Linked DNA regions of Homo sapiens: region 2 is linked to region 1. The links come from fine-mapping of genetic effects on gene expression. Tissue or cell type: whole blood. Region 1 holds a variant in brackets; the other region holds the start of a gene. All regions are shown on one strand. Distances are between the middles of the regions.

Evidence for each region. PIP is the estimated chance that this variant, and not a neighbour inherited with it, causes the effect.
Region 2: it holds the start of TNNT3, and the variant in region 1 is fine-mapped to the expression of TNNT3 in whole blood (Lepik 2017, PIP 0.95).

Annotation. Positions count from the first base shown.
Region 1 is chr11:1,876,419-1,884,489 of GRCh38, forward strand. LSP1 (lymphocyte specific protein 1) reads left to right here. Exons shown (of 11, transcript NM_002339.3): 2 at 3,669-3,806; 3 at 5,014-5,178; 4 at 7,001-7,142; 5 at 7,514-7,606; 6 at 7,862-7,905. It overlaps MIR7847 (microRNA 7847), which reads left to right and starts at 3,627; the gene lies at 3,627-3,729. RefSeq lists enhancers at 1-25, 26-922, 5,602-5,811. The variant T/C (reference allele first, on the strand shown) is at 4,837.
Region 2 is chr11:1,914,736-1,922,806 of GRCh38, forward strand. TNNT3 (troponin T3, fast skeletal type) reads left to right here and starts at 4,968. Exons shown (of 16, transcript NM_006757.4): 1 at 4,968-5,027. It also overlaps a transcript of PRR33 not described here. RefSeq lists a silencer at 1,686-1,735 and an enhancer at 2,286-2,335.

The sequences.
Region 1 (8,071 bases):
CTGGAGGAGAAGCTCCCCCTCCCCTCGACATCCTCCCCGCAGCCCTTGCTCTTCACCAGAGCCTCCTCACTCCCCAGGACCCCAGAGAGGACGGACCCTCTCCAGCCGCCCTCTGGGCTCAGGACAGCCGGGTGGGGCAGCCACAGGAGCTGCCTGCAGGGGGCAGAGTCGGGACGGGGACCGAGCCGGACACCCATTCTGCAAGTGTCTGCAGGGGGAGGACGGAGGTGGGTAGCTGGGAGTGCTGGGCCGAGGATGGGCATTGTCAGGCCCTCAGCGGGGACTGGGAGGTAGAAGTGGGGGTGGGGGTTTGTGGAGGAAGGAGAAGAAGGGCCAGCGTCCCGAGTCGGGGGGTGCTTGGCAGTGGATGAGGCCGGCAGGAACAGACCTGAGCTTGGGGAGCTCCACTCCGAACGAGGCATCCGTCAGAGTTCTGTGCATACTGGTGTCCCTGGCTGGGGGCCAGGCCCCGAAGTGGAGCCTGGGACTGTGAGGGTGCGGGGGTGTGCTGGGGTGGGAGGTGGATGGAGCCCCCCCACCGCCTGGCCCCTTGGGCTGAACCTTGGGCTTCGGAGCCAGAACAGACACAGGAAATCGCCTAATTGCATTTGTGCAGGAACACCAAATCCCTCGCAGCTGCACGGGGCTGAGCCAGGGCCACGGGCGGGGTCGGCCATCCCAGAGTCCTGACAGCTCCGTGGTGCATGCCAAGGGGCCTGGGCCGCTGGCCGGGGGGCGCCTTTCCCAGGCCAGAGGCCCCCACCCCACCCCAGGAGAGCTGCCCCCCTTTCAGTTCCCAGAACGGAGCCCAGCTGTGGAATAGTGAGGGGGTGAGGTCATGGGGAGGGGGCCCGCATGACTCATATCCTGGGGTAGGGGAAAGGGAGGAGACGTAGAAGGGGCCCAGAGGCCTCCACGTCCTCAGGCTGCTGGGTCAGAGGCCAGGGGCTGGCCGGGCTTCTCCCCAGCACTGGGTTTTAGGGGAGACACCAGGAGATGCTTACTCTGCATCCCCTACTCTGTCCCCCAGGCCCCTAGCCAGGGAGAGCTCAGTCGGAGTGATCCTCCAGGGGCCCAGCTCTGCAGGGACGATGTTCCCAGAGTACACACCTGGGCCTCGTGCCAGGGCCGGCACCGCCGTTGTCGGGGCAATGGCAAGGCAAACAGTCAACGTTTGCCTCACTAAAGTGAGGCTGCGGCACCCTGAAGGGATCCCTGGAGGGGGACGTGGTCCCCTTGTTCCCAAGCCTGTCTGCACACGCACGTGGATGTCAAAGGTTCCCGTGTGTGAGCACGTGCATACTTGTATGTGCATGGGGTGCGGGCATGTATGCCTGTGTGGCTGGAGCGTGGGCTCGTGGAGAACGTGTGTGAGTTGGGTGTGCACCTGCGTGTGCCCCAGGCCTAGGGAGTCCTGCGCCCGGCCGCACTCCATGTGTTGGGCATGAGCTGTGAGCAGAGTGAGGGCCTTTGTGGGGCTGTTGGGGCCCGGACTGCTTGCCCATAGGGGTGGACCTGAGGAAACGTGTGCACACGAGCTTCTGGGGTCTCTGCGCCAATGTGTACTTCCAAGCCCCGCCTCCCCTATGGCTTGGTGGAGGGGGTCTGTGGAGCTGGAGTGAGGGCCCTGGACCCATCGGAAGCCCAGGTCCAAGGAGGAGCATGGGCTCCCTCTCATGCCCCAGGCCCAGGGACACACACCCCAGCTAAGCCCTTGCTCACATGGAGGGGCTGGGACATGGGAACACGGGGAGCAATATGGCCAGGCTTCCCCTCCATGGAACCCCTCCACCTCCTCAACACTCTGCCCCAGCCTGCGCCGCCCTCTGTGTGGAGGGGCTGGGGCGTGAGTGAGCACGAGGGCCCCTGCGCCCCAGGCTCTGCCTCCTCAGGTGGAACAAGGCCCAGCAGCCCCCAGCCATGCGGAGGCCGGCAGAAGCGGGAAGCTGGGCCTCATCTGCCCGGATGATGGGAGCCAGGTGTGGGGAATTAAGTGGCTTCCTCGGGGGCCGGGAGTTGAAGGCACTTCTGAGGAGCAGGACAGGCAGGCGGATTCGGGGGCGCGGGGGGCGGGGTGCACAGGCGGCTGGGTTTGCGTGGCTGGAGTCCCCTGTGGCTTCGGTGGGGGGAGTGGGCCTTGAACTCGGGCCTGTGGAAGGGCCTGGCTTTTGTCTGAGAGGCTTAGGGGAGACCTAGGAGAGATTAGATCACGCGCTGGCAGGGCTGTCTGGCCAGGGGACTGGGGCCCAGTGGGGATCAGGCTGCAGGGTCAGGCAGCGGCCACTGGCCGGGAAGAACTGAGACCCCAGTGGGGAGACCCCAGCCCTGCTCCCTGTTCTGGCCTGGGCTCCCTCCCTGGGTCTGGGATAATAAGCCCTGTAGGAGTGTAGAGACCCTGGACCCCCTCTCAGGCTCTAGGAGGGCGATGGGAGGCAGGGCCATGACAGCTGAGGCTGCGGTGTCTGCAGGACCTGGACCATCTGAGAGCTGCTGGGCCGGGGCTCTGATGCCCAGGTCCAGGCCAGCCTGTGCCTACCTCTGTCCCTGAGGGGGGCGCGTGGGACCCCAAGAAGCCATGGTTTCAGGCTCTGAGGGCAGAAGCACTCCCTTACCTCAGTTTCCCCATTTTTGAAATGGCTCAATCGGCTGGGTGCGGTGGCTCATCCCTGTAATCCCACCACCTTGGGAGGCTGAGGCGGGCGGATCACCTGAGGTCGGGAGTTCAGGACCAGCCTGACCAACATGGAGAAACCCTGTCTCTACTAAAAAATACAAAATTAGCCGGGTATGGTGGTGCATGCCTGTAATCCCAGCTACTCAGGAGGCTGAGGCAGGAGAATCGCTTGAACCCAGGAGGCGGAGGTTGTGGTGAGCCCAGATCACACCATTGCACTCCAGCCTGGGCAACAAGAGTGAAACTCCGTCTCAAACAAACAAACAAAAGAAACAGCTCAGAGAGACTCCGCAGAGGGCTCTGAAATAAGGATGGGGTGGGGTTGGGTGAGCCGACCCTGTAAGGTGCCCCCAGCTATGGGGTTAGGCCCAGGCAGGACCCATGAGTCTGCGGAGCTTCTGTGAGCGGGGCTGGTGGTGGGACAGGAGGTGTCCTGCCTGGACGTGCTCAGGCCCTCCTTTCCTCAGCCTTCGACCTCCCCTTTCTCCAACACGCCCTGCCTTTGGGGTGCAGGAGGGAGCACCCGCAGGTGGGGTGGAGGTGCCGCCTGGCGGTGGGCTGCGGCCAGTCTCCCTGGACTCCAGTATCTTCTTCCTGGGCCCTCCAGGGTCACCTGGGTCTAGGTCCTGGTTCTACTTAGGGAGGGAGGCAGGCTGGGAGAGGGGGACAGAGGGCCTTTTGTCCTGTCCTTGAGTTTCTTCAGGCTTGAATGGGCCTTGGAGTCCCACCTTCATCCCCACAGGGCACAGGGGTGCCCAGATCCTCACAGGGCCCCAGGACCCTCGCCTGGGCCAGAGGGCACCTCATGACCACGTGGGCAGCCTCTATTTAAAGATGGACAAGGTGAGGCCTGAGGGCCGGCCTGGGACTGACCTCGTGGACAGGGCTGCCTGCACCGTGTGGCCCCAGCAAGGCCTGTGTAGATGGGAGGAATGGGTGCAAAACAGCACCTGTGTCGGCTGTGGCGTGACTGTCCCTCTGTGTCCCCCACTAGGCCCACTGCTCAGTGGAGCGTGGAGGACGAGGAGGAGGCCGTCCACGAGCAATGCCAGCATGAGAGAGACAGGCAGCTTCAGGCCCAGGACGAGGAGGGAGGCGGCCATGTCCCCGAGCGGCCGAAGCAGGAGATGCTGTGAGCAGCCCCATAACGCGTGCCTGGGCTCTAGCCCCTATCCGTGTACCCTGGGGCCTGGGCAGAGGGGGAGGTCAAGGGCCTGGGCTTGGGGGTTCCAGTGCAGGATGAGAGCGAGGAAGGGCCCCCAGGAGCAGGCGTGGGAGTGGGTGAGTGCTCCTGGGGCGAGGGTGGCCACAGCCCTAGAGGAGGGTCTGCCAATACCTGGCTGCCTCCTGGGCGCTGACCCAGGCTCTGTGTCCGTGCCCTGGCCCTTGCTCGGACCGCCTCTGACCCCAGCCACGCAGCCTGGCCGAGCCCCCCACCAGACTCCCCCGCCAGTGACTCACAGAGCCACGTCCAACTTGGCGGCCAGGCTGGCTTGCTTCCTCCTTGGGCCCAGGAGGCCTCCGCGGCTGGGCTGGGCTGTTTTTCCAATAATGCTTCCCTTCCTTCTGGCCTCTTTTGTTCCATTTTCTCCAAGTCAGCAGCCTTGGGCAGAGTGGGGTTCAGCGGTCACCATAGTCAGGCCCTTGGCCACCCCCACCAAGGGCCCCAGCTATCCAGGGGCTCCCCCTGCCACATGGGAGGCCTGAGAAGTCGGGGCTTAGGAGGACCTCATGTAGGGTCCTCATGTGGGGACCAGGGCAGCCCTTGGGGAGCCCCAGGATGATGGGGGAGGCACAGCCCTGCCCTAGGGAGCCCCAGACTGATGGGGGAAGCACAGCCCTGCTGTTAGGGAGCCACAGGCTGACGGGGGAGGCCCAGCCCTGCCCTAGCGAGTCCCAGAGTGATGGGGGAGGCACAGCCCTGCTCTTAGGGAGCCACAGGCTGACAGGGGAGGCACAGCCCTGTCCTCAGGGAGCCCTACACTGATCGAAGAGGCACAGCCTTACCCTCAGGGAGCCCCAAACTGATGAGGGAGGCATAGCCCTGCCCTCAGGTAGCCCCAGGCTGATGGAGGAGGCATAGCCCTGCTGAGCCTCAAGGAGTCCTGGACTGATGGAGGAAGCACAGTTCTCAGGCTGCCCCAGAACTGACGGGGGAGGCA[T/C]AGCCCTGCCCTCAGGTATTCTGACCACAGGAGACACAGCCCAGAGCCAGCTCTGTGGCAGACAGGGTCTCCCACACTTGGAGTCCAGGGCCTGAGCGGGCGCCGTGAGGTGAGTGTGGGCCCTGGGCAGAGGAGGCAGCAGCCGCCCAGGCCTAAGCTCCCCCCTGCTACCCTCAGCCTCAGCCTGAAGCCCTCGGAGGCCCCTGAACTGGATGAGGACGAGGGCTTTGGCGACTGGTCCCAGAGGCCAGAGCAGCGGCAGCAGCACGAGGGGGCGCAGGGCGCCTTGGACAGCGGAGAGCCCCCCCAGTGCAGGAGTCCTGAGGGGGAGCAAGAGGACAGGTGAGTGAGGGCCTCGAGGGCGGGCGCTGGGCAGAGCAGGGCTCCCTCTGGACCTCGAGGGCGGGCGCTGGGCAGAGCAGGGCTCCCTCTGGACCTCGAGGGCGGGCGCTGGGCAGAGCAGGGCACCGCGGAGCTCCCTTCAGGCCCTCAACCTGCGCCTGAGCAGCCACCCCATCCTCCCCTTTCCAAGCAGAGCCTGAAATGCCCCCATGGCCAGGAAAGGGGGAGACAGGAGGGGAGGGAGGAAGAGGGCGAGACAGCATGGTGGCCGGCGAGGGGCCGCGAGGAAACCTCATTCTGGGGCTCCCCAGGGCCCCTGGGCCCCATCCAGGCAGCTGCGAGGCCAGGCCGGGTGCTGCCACATCAGCACACAGCTGCGGCCGCTTCCGTAATGGAGGCTGAGAGCCCGCCGCCGCCCCTTCCTCCCTCGGGGCTGGCTGATCTCCATTCCCACGGAGGGGAGCAGGTATTTCCAGATGTGCATGCCGGAGAGTCGGCCGGGAGGACGCACTTTCCAGATGTGGGGATGTGTGTGCCTGTCTCAACCCCAACAGGCCCAACAGGGGCTGCTCCCGAGCCCCACTTCACTACCCCTGCTCGGGGTCCTTGCCGCTCTCAGTCATCTGTGGCCATGATGGGGCTGACCCCACCCGCCCTGCAGGGCCTGGGCCATCTGGGACCCCAGCCCTGCTCAGGACCCCCTTGCCTTGAGTGGGACCAGAGCCCATGGCTGGGCTGACAGTTCTCCCTGGTCAGGGTCCTTCCTGGCCCCTCTGAGGCCCTAAACCAGCCTGGAGCTCTAGGGACCAGTGTTGCTGAGCGACGCTCCCTTGTCCTCCTACAACCAGGCTCCCACTCCCCAAGAACCACTGGTCCTGGCCTGGCGCAGTGCCCACCGCCCCCCTCCCTGGGCCTCAGTCTCCCCCCTACGTGCTTGGGAGTCAGCGGCTCTGCTTTTCTGAGATGGGGCAGCTCCCTTCTCCCTTGGCCTCAGGCCTAGGCGGGCGAGGCTGCTCCCACCAGCAGGGGGCGCTTTGACTCTTCCGTGGAGCCCAGCTCTGCGGCCGCCACCCCACCCCCTGCACCTGCCTGGCTGCACAGACCTGCTCCTGAATGGCCCCTCTGTGTGGCTGCTGCTGGCTCAGACCCCTGCCCACCTTGGGCGGGTGGGTCTGGGTCTTGGCTGGCACGCACACCCAGGGGCCTGAAATCATGGAAAATTCGAGAATTTCCCATCTTCTCCTCCAGGTTCAGTCCTGCTCAAATGCAGAGCCGCTCAAAGCTGCCAGCTGGCTGGCCTCCCCTCCCCCGCAGCCGGCAGCCCCTTGGCCCTGCTCCTCAGTGACCTGGCCCCTACCCCTGCCTAGCCCTCCAAATGACCCAGCCTCCAGTCCCCCAAACACCCAAGGGCCCCCACAGGGAGCAGAGCAGGAGTGGTGGCCCCAGCAGCCCGGCCTCGCGGGGACCCCGTCAGACCAACCGGGTGTGCAAGCAGCTGCCAAGCTGAGGCCCAGCCACAAAGCTGGGGATTGAACCCAGCCTCAGTGCCTGGGGGACCCTCAGTCTGTAGAGCCCTGTCTGGCAGGGACTGGGCAGTTCCCCAGGGGCCTCAGGCCCTGACACAGGGGCCCAAGCAGACTGCGCTGGCTCTGAGGCCACTGGACCTTCTTTCCCAATGGGCTTGGGTCTCAGATCCCTTGGCACTCAAGTAGCCTGACTACCTTCATTTTACAGATGGGGAAACTGAGGCTTGGAAAAAGGAAGGGGTCAACCAAGCAATCCAATGGCCCTAGAACGGCTTTGCCTCCCTTTCCACCCACAGGCCCGGCCTGCATGCCTACGAAAAGGAGGACAGTGATGAAGTCCACCTGGAGGAGTTGAGTCTGAGCAAGGAGGGGCCAGGCCCAGAGGACACTGTCCAGGACAACCTGGGGGCCGCAGGGGCTGAGGAGGAACAGGAGGAGGTGATGGCTCCACCTCAGAGGGTCTGGGTGTACCCCCACCCCAGGGATGAGTCTGCCTTGGCTGTCTGCACCACTCTGTGGGCCCTGTGGGTCTAGCCCAGAGTGGGTCAGCACCCCACACCCCTAGACCTTGCAGCCCCTTCTGGGCCCACATTCTCAGAGAGGGCAAGGCTCAGTGATCCTCTTGCAAGATCCGGAGACATCTCTCCAGACTCCTCAGTCCCTCCCCACCAGCTCCAGAACTGGAGCACGTCAGGGCCACAGAGAACCTGGGGCTCAGGAAGGAACAGCATTTGTTCCCACAGGTGCTGGGCAGGGCAGGAGGGGCACAAGCAGGGGGTCACTTGGGATGTCTGTTTTTTTTTTTCTAGCACCAGAAATGTCAGCAGCCCAGGACACCCAGCCCCTTGGTCTTGGAGGGGACCATCGAACAGAGCTCGCCTCCCCTGAGCCCTACCACCAAAGTAAGTTAAGCTGCAAAGCCTGCCATCTTCTCCCCTCTCCCGTACTCATACCCAAAAGGCCAATCCCACATGCCAGCCACAGGAAGACCAGGCCCAGGCCTGGCTTTTGTCTGCTATCCCCCCATTGCCCGGTGCTCAGCGAACCCCCATGATATAAGGGTTGGGGGTTGGATTAGTGGTTGGAGTAGCTGGGGAGATGGAGGGTGGGCTTTACCTCGGCTGCTGCAGGCCTGTGTCTCTCTCCACCCTCTGCAGCTCATCGACAGGACCGAGTCCCTAAACCGCTCCATAGAGAAGAGGTCTGTCTGTCTGTCTGTCTGCTTTCTGGGCTCAGATCTTAGGTTTAACCAAGTGGGGGTTGAAGGGAGTCACAAGGTAGAGATCTGGAGACCGAGGGGGGCTCTGGGAGAGGCTTGGGCAGGTTGGGAGAAGCCTTGTGGGAGACATGGGGCCTGACACATCTTC
Region 2 (8,071 bases), 38 kb after region 1:
TGTGGGGTCACACACCTGGGATGTTTCTGTGTCTTTGTGTGTGTGGGTTGTGGGGTGTACACACCTGGGGAGATGTTGCTCTGTGTGTGTTGTGGGTGTACAAACCTGGAGATGTTTCTGTGTGTGTGTGTGTGTGTGTGTGTGTTGTGAGGTCACACACCTGGGATGATGTTGCTCTGTGTGTGTCTGTGTGTGTGTTGTGAGGTCACACACCTGGGGATGATGTTTGTGTATGTGTGTGTTGGGTGTACAAACCTGGGGATGATATTTCTCTGTGTGTGTGTTGTGGGGACACACGGATGATGTTTGTGAGTGTGTGTGTGTATGTGTTATGGGGTCACACACCTGGGATGTTTCTCTGTGTCTGTGTGTTTTGTGGGGTCACACACCTGGGATGATGTTTCTGTGTGTGTGTGTGTGTGTGTGTGTGTTCTGGGGCCACACAACTGGGATGATGTTTCTCTGTGTGTGTGTGTGTCTTGTGGGGTGTACACACTTAGGGATGATATTGCTATGTGTGTGTGTTCTGGGATCACATCCCTGGGGATGATGTTATTCTCTGTGTGTGTGTTGTGGGATAGGACATCTGAGATGATGTTTCTGTATGTGTGTGTCTGTGTGTTGTGGGGTCACACACGTGGGATGATGTTTCTGTGTGTGTGTGTCTGTGTGTGTATGTTGTGCGGTCACGCACCTGGGATGATGTTTCTGCGTGTGTGTGTATGTGTTGTGGGGTCACACACCTCAGATGATGTTTCTTTGTGTGTGTTGTGGGGTCACACACCTGGGATGTTTCTGTGTGTGTGTGTGTTGTGGGGGGTGATGTTTCTGTGTGTGCATGTGTTGGGGGGGATATTATTTGTATGTGTGTGTGTGCGGGGTGATGTTTCTGTGTGTGTGTGTTGTGGGGGGTGATGTTATGTGTGTGTGTTTTGGGGGGGTGATGTTTCTGTGTGTGTGTGTGTTGTGGGGAGGTGTGTGTGTTGGGGTGATGAGTGGATGTGTGGATGGATGGATGGAGGGAGGGATGGATGGATGAAGGGAGGGTGGATGAAGGGAGGGAGGGAGGGATGGATGGATGCATGAATGGGTAGATGGATAGATGAAGAGATGGATGGATGGATGGATAGACAGGTAGATGGATGGGTAGATAGATGGATAGGTGGGTGGATGAATGGATGGATAGACTAATGATGGATGGATGGATGGATGGCGGGAGGGATAGATGAAATGGAGGGATGAGTGGATGGGTAGGTGATTGTATGGGTGGTTGAAAGGATGGACAGACGGAGGGATGGATGATGGAAGAGAAGGAGGGAGGAAGGAAGGAAAGGAAGTGGTGAAGGTGAGAGTGAATGCATGGGAATGAATAGATGGGTGGATGAATGGACAACTGTGTGAAATAGCAGACAGCCTGGGGACACCCTCCCTCCTGTCCCTCCTCTCCCAGGTCTTGCACTGGGCCCTGACACTCAGCCCTGCAGCCTTCAGCGTCTGGGAAGTCCCTTCGAGGAGCAGCACCCCAGACTCTGATGTTCTGGACTTCACTTTGCCATTCCCTTGGGTCCTCACAGCCACTATTTTCTGAAGGCTTCATGTCAAACCCTGCTTGCCTCATGAATACACACAGTTCAGAAAAGCAAAACCTCGACAGAGCCACCACCCACACAAGGGAGGTGACGTGCCCCCATCCTTTCTCAGATGCCCCAGCCACTGAGAGAGGATCCAGGCCACCCTCCCCAGCTGGGGAACCACCCAGTGACAGCACTCCCCTTGTTTCCCACCTGATCCGCTTGGGACGGTGACCAAGGGCAGCCGAGAGGCAGGCCCAAAGGCCACAGTTGGGCACTCAGCACTGGGGTGCAGAGTGGACAGCACCAGGGGCAGGGGGTAGTTGGGGTCAGCAGTGCTGAGGAGGCAGCCACTGCCCACCCCGCCCCCGACCAGCCCTGGCCCCTTGTCAGATCATCTGCACCCCTCGGCTCAGCCTCGAGAACAAGGACCCAGGGCCTGTCCCTCTGAGCTCTACCCAGCCACAGCCCTGCTGTGTTTCTGATGCAGCCTCCCGTCCACGGCCACAGCAACCCCATGCCCCTGCTCCTGGAAACCTGGAGGTCAGGCCATGCCCAATGCGGAGGTCAGGAGGCTCAAAAGGCCTGCAGCCTAAGAGGCCCCTGGCCAGGGATGGCAGATGAAGCCCCTAGCCTCTGTCCTGCCTGCCAGAGCAGCCACCAGACACCCTGTGACCCTTGCTACAAGCCCCTAGGCCAGCCACAGAGAAGACACCCATCATATCTGCAGAACGAGTCAATGAAACTGCAAAATCAGAAGCACTAGGCATGTGGGGAGGCAGCTACCTAGGGCTGGAGCAGCTCAGTTCCCAAGTGCTGTGTCAGCTGCTCCTGTCCTGGGCCTGGCAGTGATTGAGCCCACAGCTGGGCCGAGCGGCCTCAGGCTGGATCCAGCCTGGGGGCTCAGGTCAGCTCAGGGCATGAGGAGAGGCTCAGGACCCTCTTGGTCTCCACCACCCCCAACCATGCGCACTGGGTGCTGGGACCTAGATTGAGGGGCCCCGGCCACCATCTGGGGGCCACCCAGGCAGGGAGCTGCAGCCAAGACACTCAGGAGGCCATCCTCCCTCCCACAGCCTGCTCCCCACTCCCTGGGCTTGGCTCAGCATTTGCCAATTTCAGAACCCCCCCATCCCCCAACAACTGCCCTAGAGCCAAGGCCCCGTGGTCCGTCCTCAGACTCCTCCTGGGTGGAAATGCGTCCCCAACCCAGGCTGGGCCTCCCTTGTGCCCTGCCCCCACCCAGGTCTACAGTCCCCCAGGAGGCCCCTGCCCTGCCTCCTCTCCTTGGACCATCCCGGTCCGGCCAGATGGCAGCAGGGCATGGGTTACCTGGTGCAGGCCCTCGAGGCCGCTGGTGCCTGCTCTGTGCAGTCCCTGCTACGCCTCAGGCCCAGCGCCCGAGGGGGAGGTCGCCGATACCCAAAATAAAACCTGCCCTATCCCTCTGACCTCAGCTGGCTGGGCGGAGAGCGCCTGCCAAAGCTCCAGGAGCTGGGCGGGCAGCACCTTCCCCTGCTGGCCACACGGGGCCAGTGCAGGGTTATGGCACACCCACCTTCAGGTGCGCCCCTCAGGACCCCTGGCCTGGGTGAGGGCTTGGGTGGGCACAGGCTTCCTAGGCCTGCAGACTGAACCACGTGTAACCAGAATGGTGGGCTCAGGGCTCCGTTAGAGAAGCCGGCAGAGCGAGCCTGGAAAAGGAGGTTGGCCCCACCATGGGAGAGGATGGGGTGGGCCCGCTGACCCCCAGGGACCCGCTCACGTGCCTCTGAGGGAGCAGTTCTGCAGATGTCCCCAGTGGGCAGGAAGCTGGTCACAGATATCCAGGGGCCAGGGCTGTTTGTGGCCCCCAAAGCCTTGCCCATCGAGGACATGGACAGGGAGGGGAAGGCGTGGAATGCAGACGAAGCCACAGACCCAGAGCAGGAGGACGGCGACGTTCCCAGCAACCCCAGCTCCAAGAGCCTTCCCAGTGCCGGGCACTCAGCGGGAGGCAGGCAGGGGACCGGCCCTGTCCTTTGAAATGGCAGCCTGGGGCCAGCCCGCCTTGTCGTGTGACCCCAGGCACACCTTGCCTGTCCCTGGGCTCTGCGGCCTCGCTCTTCCATGGAGGGGTGGAATGAGGTGCCAACCACAGCCTTCCGGAAGGCCCCCGACCCGGCCCCAGGGCACTGTGAGCCCCTGCCGGGTTATCCTGTTGTCCCTGACTCTAAGCCTGGGGAGGACAGGGACCTCATCTGTGCCTCTCGGGACTCACCCCTGTCCTGGGCGCTGGCCAAGAAGGAACCAATCTGTGCCTGAACCGAAGAGTTCCGCAGACACCACCGCCCACGCTCAGCCTGTGGGGTCTGAGGGGAGTGAGGGGGTGGGTCAGGGTGCCAGACTGCTCTCCCCCACCTGGTGCCTCAGTTTCCCTGATCCAAGAGGCAGGGTTATCCAATCTGGTGGCCTCACTGGCCAGCATACAGGCCATCAGAGGCCAGGAAGGATGTCTGCTAGTCGGACGGTGCCACCTGGAGTCCTGAGGAAAGAAAACCAGTCTCCACACGCCACAATGAGCCTGTGGGAGATGCTGGCACAGATGGTAACGGCCACTGCGAGTGCCCAGGGTGGGGCCCCAGGGTTAGAAAGGGCCTAGAGGGAGGACCCAGACCCTTACCCAGCAAACTCCATGTGTAGCCCCCTGCAATGGCAGCAGCCCCGGGGGGAGGTATGGCAGACTCGGACTGCAGCCAGCCTGGCCATGTCCCTCGCCCGCTTATTGTGTAGGCCCCAACGGTGTCTAGCCAGGAAAGCAGAGCTGGCCTCTAAGAGGGTCTCAGATAGGGTGGGGGCCTGGCCTCAGTTCCATGGGGGGTCTCCGAGGCCTCAGGCTGCTTCCTCCCCGGGGGAGACAGCGAAGGGCCTGGGGCATTGGGCCGGGCGGCGGGAGGGGACCCCGGCTGTGCGGACCCTTTTCCTGGACAAATGTTTACTCCCACAGAACATCTCAGAGAGAAGGGGCGGGGGGGTGGGAAACCCGGCAGCCTGGCTCTGGGGACCCCCACACTAGTTTGGCCCAAAGAGAGCCTCGGCTTGGTGCCCCGGGGCCACCCAACACCTTCCTCCTCCCTCCTCAGCCCATCCAGAATGTACCCGCTGCTGGGAGTAAAAATAGCAGCTGACACCTCCTGGAGGCGGAGGGAGGACCTTGCCTCCTTCTCCAAGCACGTCCTCTGCATCCTGGCCTCCTTCAGCCTCCTCCTCTGGCCATTCCTATACTTGGTAAGGGGCCTGCACGGGCATAGCCCCCCCCAGCAAGACTCCGCACACACCCCGGCCACCCAGTCACTGGCCAATGGGCTCCTAGGAAGATCAAATGTCACTATAACACGAGGGTGTGAGCCGGGCGCCAGTGCCTGCAGCCGGTGCTGTCCACAGGGAGCTCCAGCCCTTCTCACACTCGACCCGCAGGTGGGTATAGGCAGGAGCGGCCACCCAGGACTGGGGCCGACGGGGCCTCCTGCGTGCGGGTGGACAGCCCCTCGTTCCAGGGACACTCTGGGGTCCTGGGGCGCTGAGGTCCCAGGTCCGTGTGGTGCCGAGCATCTCGAAGCATCATGGCTCGGAGCCCCCAGGTGGCTGCTCCAGCGTCCGGAGAGTCTGGGATGCGGACATGGTGGTGTGATGGTCTCAGCACCGGGAGGATGCAGAAGAAGGCAGAGTGTGGGAGGCCAGGAGGGGGCAAGTCGGGGCTCAGGGAAGCTCAGTGCTAGGGAGTGGCCTGAGGGCAGGAGGCAGAGAGGTGCGGGCTGTGAGCGGCAGGGAAGAGGCTGTGCAGGGGTGCTGCCAGGGCTTAGGTTGCCAGCTTGTGGTCGCCATGCAGACATTTGCCCAGGCCCGTCCTGGCCTTGCCATGCAGCTCTCGCACCTGGGCCTCCAACACCGCCATTTTGTAGAGATGAAAACGAGGACAGGAGGGCAGGGGCTCCTGTATGGCCAGCCCGAGTGTGTTGGGGTGGGGGCGTCTAAAGCCCACGCAGCCTTGGGGGCCAGCGTCTGGAGGTGCAGGACAGAAGTGGACAGGGGCTGGACTGGGGCAGGACGGGGCAAGAGTGAGGGGCTGGGCTTCATCGCGTCCCCCTGGCTGGAGGCTGGAGAAGCTGGCGCTCGTAAGAGCCCCCACCCACCCTCCCTGCCCTGGACACGGTCCCCCTGACTTGTGCCGTCTGATCAGGCCTTGGCTGCCCCTCCTGAAGTCCACGGAGGGACATGGGGCAAAGCAAAGGTTGGCTGGGTGGAGAACAGGTCTGGGGGCATGGTCAGGGCCACAGCAAGCAAGGGGCAGCGGCTTTTGCCTCCCCACCCTGCCCTGGCCCCGTCACCTCCCAAGGAGGGAAAGGTGATGCATACGTGCCCGAAGAAACTGACCGCATAGGTTATTTTCACGCAGCCCCTCCAAGGCAGGCACTAACTGGACACCTGCTTTGCGTCTCAGCTGTTGAAATGCCATCCCCTGCCCCCAGCACACCCCTGCCCCCAGCACACCCCTGCCACCAGCCCCTCCCCGCAACAGAGGCAATGACACAGGCCATACTGGGGGGAACAGAACAGCCTTGTGTTGCTTCCAGGCGCTCAGCAGAAAACCAGGTGCCTCAGTTTCCCCACTTGGAGAGTGGGCCTTTCCAGCGCACGTCGGGGGGCCTGGAGGTCACCCTGCCTGAGGGTGTTGGGGCACCCATGTGACTCTGGCCTGGGGGGACAGGAGGGAAATATGAGGAGCTGGGGAGGGCCTGGGTGCCCGAGGGTGAGGGGGCAGCTGTGGGCCAAGGAGGGCTGGGCTGTCACACCCGCCTCACCCACGTCTTGGGTTTCTGGGCAGAAACGTCTTGCCTATTTCTGGACACCTCAGCTGCCACTGGCTCCTTATAAATAACCCACCCCAGGCGAGGGCCACGCTGCCCCCATCTTGTGGCAGCCGACAGGTGTCTGCCCCGCCAGCGTCGGGCTGGGCACAGCAGGGCGGGGCCAGGCTCCGCTCCCTCCCTTCACTGACCCTCCTCCTCCTTACAGAGGATGGCCCTAGAGGAGTCTGTGGCGTTTGGGGCCTGAACCAGCTGGGAGGACAGCACGAGGGGCTGGTGGGCAGCCTGGGACTGGGTCACACCGGGGGCCTGGACAACACTGGCTCGTGGGGCTGAGGACTGAGGAGAGCCTGGCCCAGCCGTGGCAGTTACAAGAGGCTTAACCTGAGGGGCAGCAGAGTCTCAGGAAGAGATTCTGGGATAGGAAAAAGCTACCCCCGTTGCCTGGAAGACAGCTATCTGCTGGGTAATTTTGCATGGAGCTTAAGTTGCTCTGGGAAAATTAACATTCTTGACAGAGGGTTTGGAAAACGGTTCCCACCTCAGCAGTGCAACGTAGATGCATTTTTAGCTGATGAACGTGTGTTTTCCTTATACAACACTCCCAGGGGGGACCGTAGCTATTGTCTTCGAGTAATCTGTACTGTGTTGTAATGAACTTTGTTTTCTAAAACCCTGGCCAACATGCCGGTGCAGCTGCTCAGAGCCTCCCCAGGCCTGGCCGCCCAGTGTGCACGGTGGCCAGCTCACAGAGAGACGGTCCCCAGCATGCTGGCCTGGCGCCACCACCGCACATGGACAGGGCAGCCAGTCCTGGGCATGGAGCTTCCCCTAGACAGGGACAGATCCAGAGCATCCCCGGGACCAGGGAAAGCGGCCACAGGGAGGGAAATGGGGGGGCTGTTCTGTGGGCTCCTGCAGTCCAAGTATGCCTTGTACAGAGCCCGGCCCGGGGGGGTGCACGGGAAGCGGCCCAGACCCAACCCAACGTGCTCTGGGGCTCAGCCTCAATGTTTTCAGGGTACAGGGGTAACAAGAAGGAACAGCTTCCCTGCTCTGTGATCTTGGAGGAGGGGTCCTCAGAGGGGTGTGGTGGGACACACTCTGGGCACCCCATAGGAAAACAGGCACAGAAGGGAGCTTTGGGCTCAAATAGGGAAGAGGGGTTCTCATGGGGAATGGTAGGGTGAGCAGATTACTCATCTTGGGGAGCCAGTCTCGGTCATCCAGGGGCTCCCAGGGAGACCCCACCTACACCCACTGGGCAGAGAACACCCAGAGACAGGTTTCAGCTCCATCAGCGGGACCTTTCCAGTGTCTAGAGCGGGCTGGACGGCACACGGCCTGCATTCTGGATGACCCTCCTCAGGGGACGCCACGGAGAGGATGTCTGCCCTGGGTGGGGGTGGACGCCACGACCTTCCAACATCCCTTCCAGCTCCAAGATTCCAAGCTCCAGTCTGGAGCCAGGGCAGGAAGAGGGGACAGAGTCTGGGGCGCCAAGAGCTGGGAGGGGCCAGGAGCCCTGGAGAAAGGGGAGGCCCAAGGAGGTGGACTCACCCAAGGCCAGAGCTGGCCCCCAAACCCTGCCCGCGGTCCCCCACAGCGCTGCTCCAAGACCCCATCCCCCATCCTACACCCAGGCAGCTCGTA